Linked DNA regions of Homo sapiens: region 1 is linked to region 2. Evidence: fine-mapped expression QTL. A gene starts in region 2. The other region holds a variant in brackets. All regions are shown on one strand. Distances are from middle to middle. Region 1 overlaps LOC105378464 (a long non-coding RNA gene). Region 2 holds the start of SORCS3 (sortilin related VPS10 domain containing receptor 3).

Evidence for each region.
Region 1: its variant is fine-mapped to the expression of SORCS3 in whole blood (INTERVAL, PIP 0.93).

Annotation. Positions count from the first base shown.
Region 1 is chr10:104,591,583-104,599,910 of GRCh38, forward strand. It overlaps LOC105378464 (a long non-coding RNA gene), which reads left to right. Exons shown (of 8, transcript XR_007062285.1): 3 at 3,134-3,253; 4 at 4,426-4,530; 5 at 5,787-5,912. Among named protein-coding and RNA genes, the nearest start is that of SORCS3, 46 kb to the right of the region's middle. The variant A/ACTG (reference allele first, on the strand shown) is at 3,641.
Region 2 is chr10:104,637,019-104,645,346 of GRCh38, forward strand. It overlaps SORCS3 (sortilin related VPS10 domain containing receptor 3), which reads left to right and starts at 4,272. Exons shown (of 27, transcript NM_014978.3): 1 at 4,272-4,936. The coding sequence starts at 4,310.

The DNA.
Region 1 (8,328 bases), 45 kb before region 2:
GACAGAGCTCAGCCGGAGAGGGGACTCAGGAGCTGGAGCCAGTGAGTGGAGTTGGCCTCAGAACTGTGGTATCTTTTCTTATCTAATAGTAAAATCCCAGATGCTAGTTGGCCCTGGTGCCCCATGGTGGAGAAGCAGTGAGTCTGGTCTGGAGCCCAGGTCCCAGATCTCCTTCTCATTGGTTTTAAGTAAAGAGGGAAAAGAGGCTCTGTAGCTGCTTTTCACAAATGTCGTCATTCTCATCAGCAGATGGTAGAGGAGAGAGGCTAATTCAGAACTCCTGTAGCATATAAAACAAAAACCAGCCAAAGGAACCCACAAGGTAAATGATATCATTATAAGGGAAGTAAAGGAAACAGCATCTGTCCCTGCTGTGGCAGGAACCAGAGCTAGGATGCTGGAGAGGTGCCTGCTCCCTGGGCCTTGCAGGGAAGTGGTTCTCACTCAGTGGCAAGGGGAGCTGACGGCTCAGCAAATGCTCTATTAATCCCACCTGAAGAGAAGAACAGTTCGGGAGGGCTGGGCTAGGTCCCGATTTTAAATGTTTAATGCACATCTTGATCTTCCTTTTATTTGTTGTTGGACTGTCTGGACAGACTCTTGTGATTTTCCAGGTTTGTTGATCAATTAAAGTTGGAGAAGACACATGGTTTATCCCACCGCATGCCTTCTGATAGGTCATAGTATGTTGAAACATCCAGGGATAAGTTCATCTGATTGTGGGCTTAGCTGATATAGGGGCTGAGGGTGTGGAAGGTACCTGCCTTTTGCAGCAGCCTGAACAAAGAATTTAAAAACTCCGTTCCTTGCCTTTAGCTCCACTGGGCTCTCAGACCCCACTGGAGAAGAACAGGGAAGAGACAGCTCTTTTCTGCAGCCACCTTCCTAGGCATTCTGTGGTTTTGCTGAAAGAGCAAAGGCTTCTGGAAACAGACCCATGTTCCCGATCCTGGCTCTGTCACTGACGAGCTAAGGCCAGGGCCCTCTCTTATGTCTTAGTCTCCTTGTCTGTAAAATGAGGGCATGTACCCACTTCAGAGGTGTTAGGAGGAGTATATACACATGATGCCTTATGTGGGTACAGTAGTGCCTAGCACAGTATTAGCTGTAGAATAAATGGGAATTCATAACCCCTCATTTCTAGATCAACCCCTGTAAGTCCACCCAAGAACACTGTGTGCCTGAACGAAAGGCAGGTAGGAAGAAGGCAGGGAGGAGAGTGCTTGGGTAAAAAGACACTGTGGTGAAGCATTCCTCTACTGGAGCCCCTTTCTCAGAATCCTAGACTCCTAAAACACCAGGATTGGAAGTTTCTTTGGAGGTCTTTTATTCAACTGTTCACTTCATGCAGGAGATGACTTTCCAAAGTCCTTGCCAAATGTCATCCAATTTTCCCTGGAACATCTTCAAAATAGTGTAGTGGGTGCAGAAATAGTCTCCACCACTTCCTAACCCTAACCCTGGGCTAGTTCCTTAGCCTCTCCCTGTCTCAGTTCCCTTAACTGTAAAGTGAGAGCAATAATAATAGGATTGCTCTAAGGACGAGTTAATACCTGTGCCTAAAGTGGTCTTTGGAAAGCGCAACCTCTCAAAAAATACCAACTTTAAACACGATTATTATTGCTATAACCTTTTCAGGGTTGAGGACAAAGCTATGGCTGGTTACACCCCAAAACCTCCCTGGCACCTCAGGGCAGCTTTGGTCCAGAAAAGGAAGCTCTCTCTGTCTTCATGAAATTTCCACTTAGGCATCCATTGATTATCCTTCTGTTCAGATTTTAATTTTTTTTTGGAGAGCCATCATCTCTTCCCTGGGTCTCTTCCTCTTTCATACTTAGTGCTTTATACCCAAGAGAATATTATTACATCGAACATGAAATTGTGGTTTTGGAGGTCAAAAACTGTCAGGTGTTTCATACGATTCAACCTGCACAGAAGCAGTGTCATCTTTGGGTCCCTGGAGTCACAATCACCACAGTTACTTTGGGTACCTGATTCCGGGTCCCTAAAGAAGATCTGAGAGGAGTGCCTAGAAATCTGCATTTCTAACAAGGTCTCCACTGACACAGTAGAAAGAACACTGGCCTGGGAACAGGAAACCCAAGTTTGAGGACCAGTCCTGTTTCTAGCTGGCCACATAACCTTGGGAAAGTCACTTCAGTCTCTAGGTCTCTGCTCTCTTTTATCACCACAATGGGAATTGCAAGAAAGTGATCTTTAAGATTACCCCCAAGCCTGAACTTATATGGTTTATAAAACACTTACTGGGTGCCTATTAGGAACTGAAGGTCACAAAAGATATAGTTCAAGCCTGCAAGGAGATTACTCTTGTTGGGAAGATTGAAACCAGATGAAGAGGCAGAGCAAAACAATGTGGAAGATAATACAGTACGGTGGCATCAGTGATATCACCGTGGAGAAAACGGTTACCTGCAAATGTGTATTACTTCTATAGAAGCAGTGACGTGAGGCCTCTGTGGGTAGCGTAAGCTTCCTGAGGGAAAGGCCAAATTTGAGCAGCATCTTAGGTTGAGAGAAGGAAGAGTCAGCTTATCTTCTTTTCTCTTTGATAGTCCCAGCACTGGCTCCTAAAATTTCAGCAGTCTTTAAGGTACTACCTATGTTCATTTGCTCATTCATTCATTCATTCATTATCTACCTATTCATGAATATATATTGGGTGCTTACATATGGTGAACAAGATCAAATTAGTCCCTACTCTTAGAGAGCTTAACATTGTAATGAAGGATATGACAAATATTAAACAGATTAAAAAAGTGGTGTAATGCTATGAAGAGAATTAAAGCAGGATGAAATAGTAACTGTGGTTTCTTCGGTTTGGGGGTAATGGTCAGAAAAGATCTCTCAGAAGACTGAGAAGCTATGACCTGAAAGTCAAGAAGAAGCCAAACAGGGCACGATCAGGGAAAGAATGCTTCAGGTAGAGGAAACTGCCAGTGCTGAGGATCTACAGTGGGAATTTACAGGAATGAAAGAAACGCAGGAGAAGAGGGGAGAAAGGCAGGAGAGGGTACAAAATATATCTGGTACAGTAGGCAGGGGTAAGATTGTGAAACGCTTCATAAACCAGAATAAGGATTTTATATTTTATGCTTAATTCTACATGCAATAGGGAACCGTTGAATGGCTCTAAGAAGAGGAACAACATGATTTGACTTAGGTTTTTGAGGGATCTCTCCAGCTACAGATTGAAGAATGATTGTAAAGAGGGTGAGTGGAAACAGGAGGCCTGGTGAGTATGTTATTGCAGAGTGGTCCGATGAGAGACAGTGATGGAGCAGACTAGTGAGGGAGCAGGTGGGGAACAGGGCACAGGTGTTTAATCACTCAGGGTAGAGAGGGTAGGGGAGAGGCACACAAGGAGATAAGGGAAGGGCTCAATATTTAAAGCACAGTTTCTTAAACAGTTTTTCCTGCTCTAGTGGGAAAATCATGCACTCGCAAGAACAGTGTATCAATTCAATGGTGATTCTAAATTGGGGTTCCCCCGGAAGATGTGACAGCATATTGTTGCTGGAGGAATGTAGGGGGCATGCCCTACGCCTGCACCCCAGCAATTGCCACATGGTTTATGTTGTGACTGTGACACAAGTCCTAATTGTGAGAGAGGACCCAGGGT[A/ACTG]CTGCTCAAAATGATAGGAAACATTGACAAATCCTAGCCCAGTTTGACTTTTTGAAAGCTTGTTCCTTGCTATTTTGACCCCCAAGTACATTTTGATTTCAGGTCTGTAAATAAAATTATTTGTATTAGAATAATAAAAACATTAATTTTTTTGTTAAGATGATTTTATAGGGTAAATTCTAATAAGTAAATTTAATTCTTTGATCATTTTTTATCTGATGCACCTAAAAATTTCCAGCCGAAGCTGGACCTGGTGGCTCATGCCTGCAATCTCAGCACTTTGGGAGGCTGAGATGGGAGAATCTCTTGAGGCCAGGAGTTTGAGACCAGCCTGGGAAACATATTGAGACCCCATGACTACAAAAAGTTTTAAAAATTAGCTGGGTACAGTGGCATTAGCCTGTAGTCCCAGCTACTCAGAAGGCTGAGGTAGAAGGATTGCTTGAGCCCAGAAGTTGGAGGCTACAGTGAGCTATGATTGTGCCACTGCACTCCAGCTTGGGTGACAGAACAAGACCCTGTCTCTTAAAAAAAATTCAATCATTTTGGTTTTCATTTCCATTTTCATTATGAGAAATTCTATTCCATATAACCAGTTTTTTTTGGAAGAGTTTGAAAGGATTAGTTCCTCAAATTTTTGGTAGAATTCAGTCATCACTCAGGTTGTTTTTTTTTCCATAATGATGTTTTTAAGTTCAATTTCCTTAGGCTTGATTTCGCAAATTTAAATTTTTTTCAGACATATGATTCTTTACTAAGTTTTAATGATAATGAATATGTTTCAGGTTCATCCTCTCAACTCTCTATTTGTGTCCAGTCAAAATTCGCAATGCCAACACAATAGTTTCTAGTCCCATGATCCACTGAGAAAAACATGGATTCTTTAAAAGGTAAAATACATATTCAACATGATGCTGCACTCTCTTCCCCTCCCCCCTCAAAGGCTGACACTACTAATTCACCGCTGGCACTTCCTATGGATTGAGAGACAGCTGTAGCTGATATTGAGCTTAGAATCAGATGGTTCAGACATCGAACCATTTCTGCATCAGCTGGTAAACAGCTGTGGCCTGGAGGGCTCCTTTTGGACCTCCCTATGCTGACCCAGCAACTAAAGAGTTAACACCCAAACCAGCAGGGCACCTGGAAGATCCCAGAAGGGTTGGGGTGAGGGTGAGGGTTGGGCAGGGCAGGGTTGGCCAGCACTGCAGCTGGCCATTTGTGCTGATTGGTGGATTGTTAACCTTTTTGAATATCACTCTGGGGAACAGTTTAAGAATCTTTCTCAGTACAAGGCTCCAGGAAGACATTACTGAATTGATCAAAGTTGGTACTTTAGATGAAACCTATTTATCACCCCTGGATTAAGGTCTTATCTCCCTTAGGGATATTTGGTTATAAACAGTGTGCTCTGAAGGTTAAAGAACCTCCAGGGCTCCAGGAACTGGACTTCTACTGCTGTACCTTCAAGTACCCTCCTTGGACAGAACTGGGGGCTGAGGCCAAATCACAGTTCCTGATCTGGATTGGCCTGACCTTTGAACATGAGATAGGGCAATCAATGGGGACGGGCACTAAAATGAACTCTAAGACCCTCCCCTCATTGCCAAGGCTTCTAGCACAACAAGAATGGCTTGTTCAGGCCTGCATTCAGTCTTGACATTCTGCAGTGTAGAAGCCAGGGGCATCAGTGGTTTCTCTGCTACATGTTTTCATTTTTGTAGAAATCACGTTGCCTATAGATAGCAAAACTAGCTTGGTATAAAAACAGCATGACTTGTGCCCTTAAAAATATTAAGTAAAAATAATTTGCCAGCCAGGTGCTGTGGCTCACTCCTGTAATCCCAGCATTTTTGGAGACCGAGGTGGGTGGATCACCTGAAGTCAGGAGTTTGAGACCAGCCTGGCCAACCATGGCGAAATCCTGTCTCTATTTAAAATACAAAAAAATTAGCCAAGTGTGGTGGTGCATGCCTGTGATCCCAGCTACTTGGGAGGCTGAAGGAGGGGTACTGCTTGAACCTGGGAGGTGGAGGTTGCAGTGAGCTGAGATTGCGCCATTGCACTCCAGCCGGGGCAACAAGAGTGAAACTCTATCTAAAAAAAAAAAAAAATTGTCATAGTAATATATATTTTTCCTTTTTAGTAAGTGGCAAAGTACCCCTGATTTTGAAACATGTATGGTCGTGATATCAAGAGTGACAACCTGGGCAAAAGAGAGCCATTGCAAAGAAGAAAGGCCTTTAGGGAAATGGAGCAGAAAGAGGAAGCAGTAAGATATTGTCTTTAGCGCCTACAACCATATATGGATTGGGTGGTCCAGAAGGAAGAATGTGGCAACCTCCCACAGGGGCTGTCGGCACTGCTGTGGTGGGATGGGCAGGAATGATTTCTCCCTCCAGGATCACTCTGTTTCCAATGAAAGACTTTTAGAGTTGTCACAGCTCTTATTTTTTCAGTGAGGTGATTGAAGTCCAGAGGAATTAACTGACTTGTGCAAGACCACACAGCTAGCCCAAGATCCATTCAGAGCCAAGAAAGAGAGTCCTGACGGCACATTCTAGTTACCTTAGACAACATGTCAGTGCAATTCATCAAGTTCTTCATAATCCAGAAGTATCATTAGAAACACTAACCATATAACACTGTAATATGGGGCTGGGTGAGGATATAGATCTATTTGCTTCTACGCTAAGTGGCCTCATTTAGTGCTATTTTGGGGTCTGCTCTTGGTACTTCCTAGGCTGTCTTTATCATCGTCAATCACGTACTGTGCCTGCTTCAAACAAATCTTCCAACATCTGCTTCCCCACACACTGTTGAAAGTACATTAGTAATTTAATTTTATGTAACACTTCTTCCAACTCTCTAGAAATCTTGCCAATGCAGTCTTGCCCGCTCCCCCTGAGGAGCCACTTTCTCTTCTGCATTCTCTGGGCCTTCTGTATCCCTTGTGGACAATGCATTGTTCTAGAAGGAAGCAACCTACTGTTTTGGGAAGAACAGGGCCCAAATCCTGTTACTAACAGTGTGGCTGTGGACAAAGTCCTTTGCCTCTTTGAGCCTGAGTTAACTCTCTGCACTAACATGTGTCTTTCAGGGAGAGTGGGAGGCTTAAATGCCTGCATAGAGCTGTCTTTTAACAAATGCTAGTTTCCTCTCTTGTTTAGAGGCATGCTCCACCTTCTGCCTTACATTGTGGTTGGTTCCAGGCATGTTTGTGCTCTTCAGTAGGATCCAGAATCCGTAGTTGGTGACTATGTTTCCTAATTCGGGATCCCCCTGTGCCAGGCATAGGCTTGCTGCAGGCTCTCCATTACTGCTTGTAGAGTAGATAATATTGTAAGTCATTAAGTTCTGGTCTGAGGCAGGTGTGTAATTGCCATGTACTCTCTTGCAGGCTCAAGAGTACAGGTCCTCAGAGGCCTTTTTTCTTCTGTGTCCTGGGAGGCATAGTGACTGCAGCTCTGACCTCCATACAGGTGGATTTTTTTTTTTTTTTGAGACAGAGTCTCACTTTGTTGCTCAGGCTGGAGTGCAGTGGCGTGATCTCTGCTCACTGCAACCTCCACCTCCCAGGTTCATGCGATTCTCCTGCCTCAGCCTACTGAGTAGCTGGGATTACAGGCGCACACCAGCACGCCTGGCTAATTTGTGTGTTTTTAGTAGAGACAGGGTTTCACCATGTTGGCCAGTCTGGTCTCAAATTCCTGACCTCGTGATCCTCTTGCCTCAGCCTCCCAAAGCGCTGGGATTACAGGCATAAGCCACCACGCCTGGCCCGACATTTCTATAAATGATGATCCCTCTTTGGAAAGTAGCCTCTTTGCAGAAGGCCCTTCTCCCAAGAGGGAATAAGATTCAGGGAACCAACTTCAAAGCCCATGCAAAATGAGCCAGTCTGCTCCATCCCTGTGGGCACAGTCAATGGGGCAAGAGCCCCCAGGGCTGCATCTCCTTCCTTCCCAGGGAAGCCATGATTGTGGGTGACTTTCAGTGTTTCTTAGCATTTGGGCAGTCTCTTGATTCCTTTGCAGAAGGTTTTGTTGTCAGATCAAGAGCACCTGCTCCCTTTATGCCCAATTGGTTGTATAGATTCAGAGGGAGCAGGTGGAGGGAGAAAGAAGTGGTGAGAAAAGCCTTGAGAATGGAGATAAGGGTGCTCCCAGAGAGAGGGAAAAGTGGATAAAAGCCTGGCTGTGCTCCCTGCACCTAAGTTCCTTAAGATTCTTCCCTTCCTGACAACAAATCTTCTTTCTCCTTGAATCAATTTGGGTGGGCCTTGGTACCTGTCAATAAATAGGCTCCAACTAACTTCTGTTTTAAATCCACTGGGGTCACATGGTAAGTTTTTTGAGAGTGGAACCACATTTCTGTTCTTATCTTCCCCTGAACACACAAGTAATGCTGGAGGCATAGTATTTGTTGGTTTAATGAATAACGTGCCTGAGTAGTACCACGCTGGTTGCAAGGAGAGTGTCTGCCCCCAGAAATTTCAAGAATTGCCAGAATATTGGAAGCAGGAAGCCTGGTCCTTTAAATATGTCATAAGCCCCATTTATGGTGTGTTCTGCAGCAGTTTTGCAAACACAGGAAAATCCATTTGAATCCAATATTCTCAGATTGCCCTGTTCATTTGGTAGTTAGAATATATTATCCTCATAGACTATTTGAGCTCCTGGTTTTCA
Region 2 (8,328 bases):
AATGATATAATAACAAGTACTATGAGGCTGTGGAGGCAAGCTCCATGGAAGAGGATTCTTCCATGAAGAAGGGTTCTTACCATGAAGCCCCTTCCATGTTGAATACTGTGGCAGAGGACACATTCCAGGCTTAAGGAATACAGTAAGAAAGTTCATGGAGGTGGGGCAAGTACATGGAGCTTTGGATACCATTCTAAGAAGTTTGGATTTTATAAAAATGGTAGGTCATTGAAAAATTTTGAGGAGGGCAATTCATGATATAATCTTCCTTATGTTTTAAGAGGCTATTTCTGTCAACAGTGTGGAGCTGTGTTGTTTAAAACAGTAGCCACTAGTCACATGTGGTTATGAAATGTGGTAGTGAAAAAATGTGGGTGGTCTGAACGGAAATGTGCTGTAAGTATAAAATACACACTGGATTTTGAAGACTTGGTACAAAAATATGTAAAAATACATCAATAATTTTTATGTTGATTACAAATTGAAACTATTTTTGGTATCTTCAGTTCAATAAAAATTAAAGTTAATTTCATTGGTTCCTTTTTATTTCAATAAAGCTACTAGAAAGTTTAAAATTTCCTGTGTGGCTTACATTACATTTCTATTTGAAGGTGCCAGTGTGGAGGCTGGCTAGGAGAAGGAAAGAACCGAAGACCAGGAGAAGAGAGGAAACTATTGCAAAACCTTAGGCAAGAGATGTTGAGGGTCAGATATAAGGCAGTGACTCTAGGAATGAACAGGAGAGGAGTGGTAAAAAAAAAAAAAAAGGCTTTTTAAAATAGGACGAGACAAGTTATGGGTGTGGGGATCCAAAAGAGGGAGTCAAGCTTGCAAGTCAAGTGTCTAGTCTAGGTGACTAAGAAGATGTTGGGGTGATGGTTTTAGGTTTTGCTGCATATGGGTTTCAAGGTGAACACATAACACGTATGAAGCAATGAGGAAGTCAGGTGTGAAGCTCAAGAGGGGATGTGGTGAAGTTGTAGATCCAGGAGTCAACACCAGGAAATGGTAGTAGAAGGACAGAAATGGGCCTGATCTCCGGGCTCATTCAGACAAGGAGAAAGGGAAAACAGAATGAGAGCCAAGCACGGAGAATTGGGGAAAATGATGGAGGCTGGGGCTCAGAATTTAAGATGTGGATAAAAGAGGACAAGCTTGACTGAGGCTGGCCAGGGAGGACCCAGAAGATCCTAGTACCATGTAGATCAAAGGAGACCTTTTCAGATGGGACAAGTTTACACATGCGGGAAGAAGAGGTTGTTGAGTGAGGCTGTCAGGCGTGTTGGGGTAGGCCTTTGACTGAGTCGCCTAAAAGCAGATGTCAAATTGCAAAAAGTCCAGGAGTGAGGAAGAGGATACTGTGGGTTCAGGTGAGAACTACTGGGAGAAGTTTGGGCACTAGAGAAGGCTAATGGGGACTCGGAAGCAGGGGGTTGGAGGCAGGGGGCTGGGGGTGGGGGCAGGGGCAGCTCAGGGCTGAGGGCAAGGATTTTCAGGCAAAGGGTGAAGGAGGGAGAGGCTGCAGGTGGAAGAAGACTGTAATTGATGGGAGCAAGGCCAAGAAAACGAACTGGTGCAGGAGGCATGTGAAAATGTCACACTTGCGGGAGTCTTTCCTTTTTTGTTTGTTTTCAAACAAAAGCTTTTAAGCTACATCTCCTCAAGCCCATCCCAAGGATCCAACTCTGCCCGGGTTCCATCTGGTAGGGCCTTCTTCAGACAGGAGAGACAGAAGGAGGCCCCTCTCAGAGCGTCTGCCTCTTTTGCACCCGACTGCTCCTGCTCAGAGGCCGCGGGAAGCTGCGGGGACTGGATGGTGCACCTCCCCAGTGCGCATAGGACTTGGGAGACCACACTCCTCCGGGCTGTGTGAGCCTCGGGTCCGCCCAGATCTCTTATACTGTGGCACCTCCGCCCAGAGCCTGAAGAGAAGAGCAGCACCGCGTCCCTCCCGAACCCCGAGCTTCGGCTCGGGCTGCAGCGCCGGGCCTCCTCCGGCAGGGGCGCTGGGAACTCGCGGATGGCCGGCTCTCGTCCAGCGCCCGATCCCGCGCCCACCTGGGCCTGCGGCGCTGGAACTTTTCTTAGGAATACCCGCTACTCCCTGTCTTTGGAAACCCACAGATGCCAGGACCCGCACCATTCTGGGCCGGACGTTGTCGCTGGCTTGGTTCTTTGGCCCAGCCTCCCCCGCTGCTAATTGCCATTTTGGCACCGGGTGGAAAGGCAAGTTCAAGAGGGCGGGGGCTCTCGGGAATCGCTGGATGTCTTCTTCCTTGGCCAGCTTAGATTCTCAGTCGCCTCTTCTGCCTCCTCCATCCCTCTTGGCTCTTACCTGGCGCCCTTTCGCCTCCTCTTCTATCTCCCTCTTCCTTTTGCACCATTCTCTCGCCCCTTTTCTCCTTCATCTTGTCTTTCCTCTCTCCCCTTTTCCCTCTATTTTCTCCTTCATTCCTTCCTCTCACCTTTCTTTCCTCTCCGCGCATTCCCCTCCCTCTCGCTCCACTTTAACCATCTTCTAGAGAGGAGGAACTCTATCTACTCCCGAAGGGGAGGAGCAGGGCTGGAGGCTGTCTCTCTCTCCCTAAGCCTCCTCCCTCCTGCCTCCTCCTTTCTTAATAGCTCCTCCTCTAGCTCCTCTAGTCTCAGACTTTTCAACCCCTAGAATCCCAGGGGCTTCTCGGAGGCGGCGAGCTACACCACATGTCCTGGGGCCTGTAAACCGCAGCTCGAGGTCGTCTGTGGGTTTAGCTCATTTCCCTTCAGCCCACCTGAAGTCTCCTTCTTCCTACGGTCACGAAGGATCTCAGCTGCACCAAGCGCGCAGGCTACACTCCTGCAGTAGCGGATTGGGGACCAGATAAGCCCACGCGGCTCCCGCCTGAGTACCCTCTTAACTGGCGGCCGACACTTTGAAACAATTGAGTCCGTTCAGAAACGGACTGGGGAGAGTGAGGGCACGACCTCAAAATCCTAGGCAGCAAAATGAGGTCTGGATCCTCCCTGGAAGAACAGACATCTCGACTACTCTCTCGCCCCACCTCTGGCCGGGAGGTCGGGGCAAGGAGAATCCCTCAACCGAGAAGATCTGGCAAGTCCCCGATCCCACCGGGGCCTTCCGCCTCTTTTCCCTCATCCCCTAGGAGGCTTTATCAGGTTCTAACCGCTTGTAGTGGGGGCCGTGGGTGCTCGGGGCGCCAAGAGGAGGGGGCTGCCGAGAGCGGCCTGCCTAGTTCTCAGCATTGCCTCTTTGACCACTCGCAGGCTCCTGGAAATGCAAACACAGCCCGTGCGTGATCCGCACGCGACCAAAAGCCGAGCGCACACCTCCCGCCCCCGCCCCACTTGCCATCGCTCACACTAACGTGCACACATGCTCGTGCAAACGCGCACGCACGGAACCGCGCGCCCCCTCACACCCAGCCGCGCTCCCGGCCCGGCTCAGCCAGGTGCCCCCACGCGGCAGCGCCCGGTCTGCCCGCCGGCCCCCTGCGAACCCCTCGCCTCACGCCCGCCTGCCTGCGCGCACGCACGCGCACGCACGCATTCCCCACGCCCCCGCGCGGGGGCGCAGGCCTTGGGTGGCGGGGTTTGGCCGGGAGCCGGCCGGGCCAGGGAGCGGCGAGCAGAGTCCAGGGTGCATCCCGCGCTTGGCTTCCGTGCGCAGCCTCCCCGCGCGGAGGCACCTGGCTCCCTCTCGGCTCTAGAACGCGAACAGTTGGCGTTGAGCACACAACTCCTCCTCCTTCTCCCCCGAGACCCCTGTACCCTCCCCGCGCGCCATCTCCCGCCCCTCATAACAGGCCCGAAGAGTAAACCCCCAAACGCGTCCAGAAGCGGCTCCCAACTCTTCGCCGGGAGCACGTTGGAGGCTGGATTTCGGAGAGACTCGGGATTGGGGTCTATTGCCGGCCCCTCCTGGATCCGGCTTGATTTTCATATTTTAAGAAGATTTTCTTATTACCTTTGATTACTCCTTTTTACCAAATTTCTGGAGGAGCTCAGTGGGGAGGATTGGGGGGAATCTGATTTTAAGAAAGAAAGCACCGAAGGGGCAATTATTAATTTTCCTCGGGTTTGGAATCACCCTCTGGACAAGAGAACGGGCGAGCGGGAGCTAGGAGGGAAGAGTGGAGAGGACCGGCGAGGCGCGCCAGCCGGAGCCACCTCCTTCCCGGCCGCCCCCTCCCCACTCCCCCTACACACACACGCTCGCTCGCTCGCCGGCGCGCGCACACCCCCCGCGCCGGACCCGCACCTCGGCGGGCGCCACACACTCGGCAGCCCGAGCCGCGGTAGCCGCAGCGGGATGGAGGCGGCGCGCACGGAGCGCCCCGCAGGCAGGCCGGGGGCGCCGCTTGTCCGGACGGGGCTCCTACTCTTGTCGACGTGGGTCCTGGCCGGCGCCGAGATCACTTGGGACGCGACAGGCGGTCCCGGACGCCCGGCGGCCCCGGCTTCGCGGCCACCGGCGTTGTCTCCACTCTCGCCGCGGGCAGTGGCCAGCCAGTGGCCGGAGGAGCTGGCGTCGGCGCGGAGAGCCGCCGTGCTGGGGCGCCGGGCCGGACCAGAGCTGCTGCCCCAGCAGGGCGGCGGCAGAGGCGGTGAGATGCAGGTGGAAGCCGGAGGGACATCACCGGCAGGCGAGCGGCGGGGCCGGGGCATCCCAGCTCCTGCCAAGCTTGGCGGCGCGAGGAGGAGTCGCCGGGCGCAGCCCCCAATCACCCAGGAACGCGGGGACGCCTGGGCCACTGCTCCGGCCGATGGTTCCAGAGGAAGCCGTCCCCTTGCTAAGGGTTCCCGGGAGGAGGTGAAGGCGCCGCGGGCTGGGGGGTCGGCGGCTGAAGACCTCCGGCTGCCCAGCACCTCCTTCGCGCTGACCGGGGACTCGGCCCACAACCAAGCCATGGTGCACTGGTCGGGACACAACAGCAGCGTGAGTACCCACCCGGCGGCGGGTCCGCCTGTTTCCTGACACCGAAGGGGAATGGGGGGGTGGGTGGGAGCGAGGGACAGATAGTTGCTCGGGGGTCGAGGCGGGGGACGCCTCGACTTTTCGAGATAACAGGTTTGTCCGATTCCCCCCACGCCCCCAACAGGTTAACGGAGTTTGTTGTTAGACGCTGTGTGTGTTTGTTTACTGGAGACCCTAGGCTTCGGCCGCCGGGAGGGGAGTGGAGGAAGGGGCTTCTTAAAGATGAGTGGGGGAGGGATCTGTGCTCACTTTCTCCAATACTTGGCTTGGAGGGTCAGTTTTCCTGTTTGCGGGGTGCTTGAATTCTTGGATGAGAAAAAGGGCTGACTTGGGGCGGGAGCCGCTGAACAGACCGATTCCTGCGGCTGCCGGGCTCCCCCTACCCCCACCCCACCCCCACCCCCCCTCCCGTCACGCGAAAGGGAACCCGGAAGGCCATTCGGACTCCCAGCCTCCTGCTCGCCTCGGGGTCGCTGCTATCCGCTCCAGGCGCGCAGTCCTCCAGCCCAAGAGGGAGGCTCGGCCAAGTCGGCCCCCAGCCTTGGCCTTCAGGTAACCCCGGTTCCTCCTTCAAAGTCCAGGGAGCGGCCCTGGAAAGCCGTAGCAGAGGCCGTAAAAAAAAGTTTAAAGCGTGAAGCGAAATTCCACACCCATCCAGCGCTCATGCCACACCGCTCGCCCTCACGCACGCACAGGCACACGGAAGTCGCTCAGCAGAAAACTCTCGACTTCACCATTGCGTCCTGCGCCACAAACGGCTCCCTGAGCGGAGTTGGGTGCCTGAGCTTCCTGCACACCTCTCCACCCGCTTTTCCCCGCCACCGGGTTCTCCTGGACAAGGATGTACCGAGAGGTGGCGTCGTTGAGCCCGGTCTGGCCTACTCCGGCATTCCGAACTGGGCGCCCGACTGAGCATCGCGCCTGCCTGGCAGCTGCAGCGGCCCGCAGCGCGTGCCCGGAGGGGCTCCCCCTACCTCGCCGGCACCCAGCGCTGTGCAGCCAAGCAAAGAAAAGGCGGGGGACAGGTTCCCACCATCTCCCCGACTTCCCTCCCTCCCGCGGTCCCTACTAGAGCCAGATTTGGAAAATCCTTTCCTCTTCTCTGGCTCCATGGTTCAGATCAGAACCTGGCGTTGGGTAGGGTGCACGCTCCAGGCGGAGGATGACGGGTGTCTGTACAAGCAGCCTTGGGGAACTGATTTGATAGGAACTCACCCCGCAACTCCCTGCCGTTTTGTATTTCTCTTCATGACCGGTGTTTGACAAAATTTCTCTGGGAAATTTTTGCCTTATTTTAACAGAGCCTGGGATGTCCAGGATTGGGTATCTAATAAGAGGAAAGCGAGGGGTCCGCAGAAGGTAGTACATAAGCAATACCAAAGTGCAGATTTCTTGGTTTCTAATGATGCACAGCGCGGGCAGCCCAGCCTGGGTAGCCCATGCTGGTCTTGAAGGACCAGTGAAGTCCAGCTTCGCAGCAGCGCGATGGCGGGCTTCATCTGCCTGGGATGAAGACCCCCGTAGCCTCGGGCTGACAGCTCTGGCGAGAGGGGTGGACAATGTGTGCCTTTGCAGGGCTGGGTGATTGAAGACTTCCAAGTCCCTTCCAAGAGGACTTGGATATGTGTGTGCTGGGGGGAGATTCTCTGACCTCAGGGTTGATTCTCTGACAGCAGGGGTTGTGAATCCCAACTTCATTTTAGTTTGATAATTAGGGTGTGTGTGTGTGTGTGTGTGTGTGTGTGTGTGTGTTGGGGTTCTTACTTGGTGAGGAGGATGGATGGATGGATAGGATGTGTGGAAGTAAATATATCCTAGGAAGAGGAGGATGCAATGTCTTTACATCTGTGGCTTCCCTACTGCCACATTAGGACAATATAAATTCACCCTCCCTGAAGAGTTTTTCTGTGTCTCTGCTTTTATTTTAAGGATTATTTTTGAGTATTTACAAAGCCTCTGAAGATGGGACTTTAGAGAAAATGCTTCCTGCAAATAGCAGTTAACTGTGCATGGCCTTCTTTGCTCATCTTCAAAGCAGTTGTGCAGCAGAAGAGGTGAGGGGCAGGTCTGGCCCGTGCTCCCTGGGGAAATGACTCTTCAGTCAAATGACGGCCAAAGGGGCTTGGGGACTGGAGCAGTTGGGCTTGGAGACCTTGGTGACAGCAATGAGATTGGACAATGTATGAACAGCCCACAGGGACTTATTGGTTGTGCTCTTGGCCAGCCTTACTGCCCATGCAAGAGCACCACAGGTGGATGTAGGGCCACGCACTGTCCTCTCTCTCCAATCTGGGGAATAACTGCCTCTTTAGCCCCTAGGCTGGACCTGTCTCTTCTGACCACATTTTGTAGGCAATACGAGAGAGAGATCCTTGATTATCAGGTCTGTGAGCCTGTGTAAAGAAGATGGAGAAGCATACTCACATGGCCCTGTCTTTGAGACTTTAAGGAAATCTCCTGGAGAGTCACTGGGAAACCAGTTTCAGCAACATTGACCCAGCTGGTTTTTCTCCTGTCCCCCTTTCCTGATGGCAGGAAAAGAAGGTGTTGTAAATAAAAGCCAGGGTGAAGAGTGATGGGGATGAGGACACTTTGGGAAGATTCCTTCATCATTGGTTTCAAAGTGGAGGGAGATGTCCGTAAAACAGAGAACATGGGGCCTAGCTCCAGGCTCTTATGACGTGGAAAGAGAATTTTATCTTTTATTCTGGCTTCTGGAGTATTAGACATGTCCTTATTCAGGAGGCCACCAGTTTAATTTTTAACACAATGAGGGTTTCCTTGCTCTTCTTCCAAGTGTCTCTGATGCACCTGATTGCTTGATATGAGTTCCCTTTTGGGGAGCGTTTTCAGTAACCCTATGAAATTGAAAATTGAACTCCATTCTGACTGAGTTTACAGTCAGGGATGCAGGGTGGGACATGAAGGAGAAGGGCCTTCAGCCCACCCCATTGGTCCAGTGTGTGCCCCAGGTGGTTGAGGGTGCAGGAGGAGACCCTTGACCAAGGCTTGGGCTGGGTATTTGCCTTGGTCCCAGGACTGAGAAGAGATGGCTTTGGGGACAAAGGAGAAGGAGTGCAACTGGCTTTGGGCAAAGGAATCAGGAGGGCATGGGATCTGGGTACCACCTCTTGACCATGTTGCCTGCCAGGTGCTCTGGCTGGAAAGTGAGTGGACTTGGCCTTGGACCCTTTACTCTGGAGGAGCGATTTGCTATTTTTTCTCTCCAGTTGCCTCCAGCTGGAATCCTGGTGATTAATGGGTTAGAGAGTGTTTCAAAAACACCCAGAGGGAGCCCAGTCCCCGTGGCTTACAGGGAAACAGAAAAACACATTATTCTGTCCTTTTCCTTC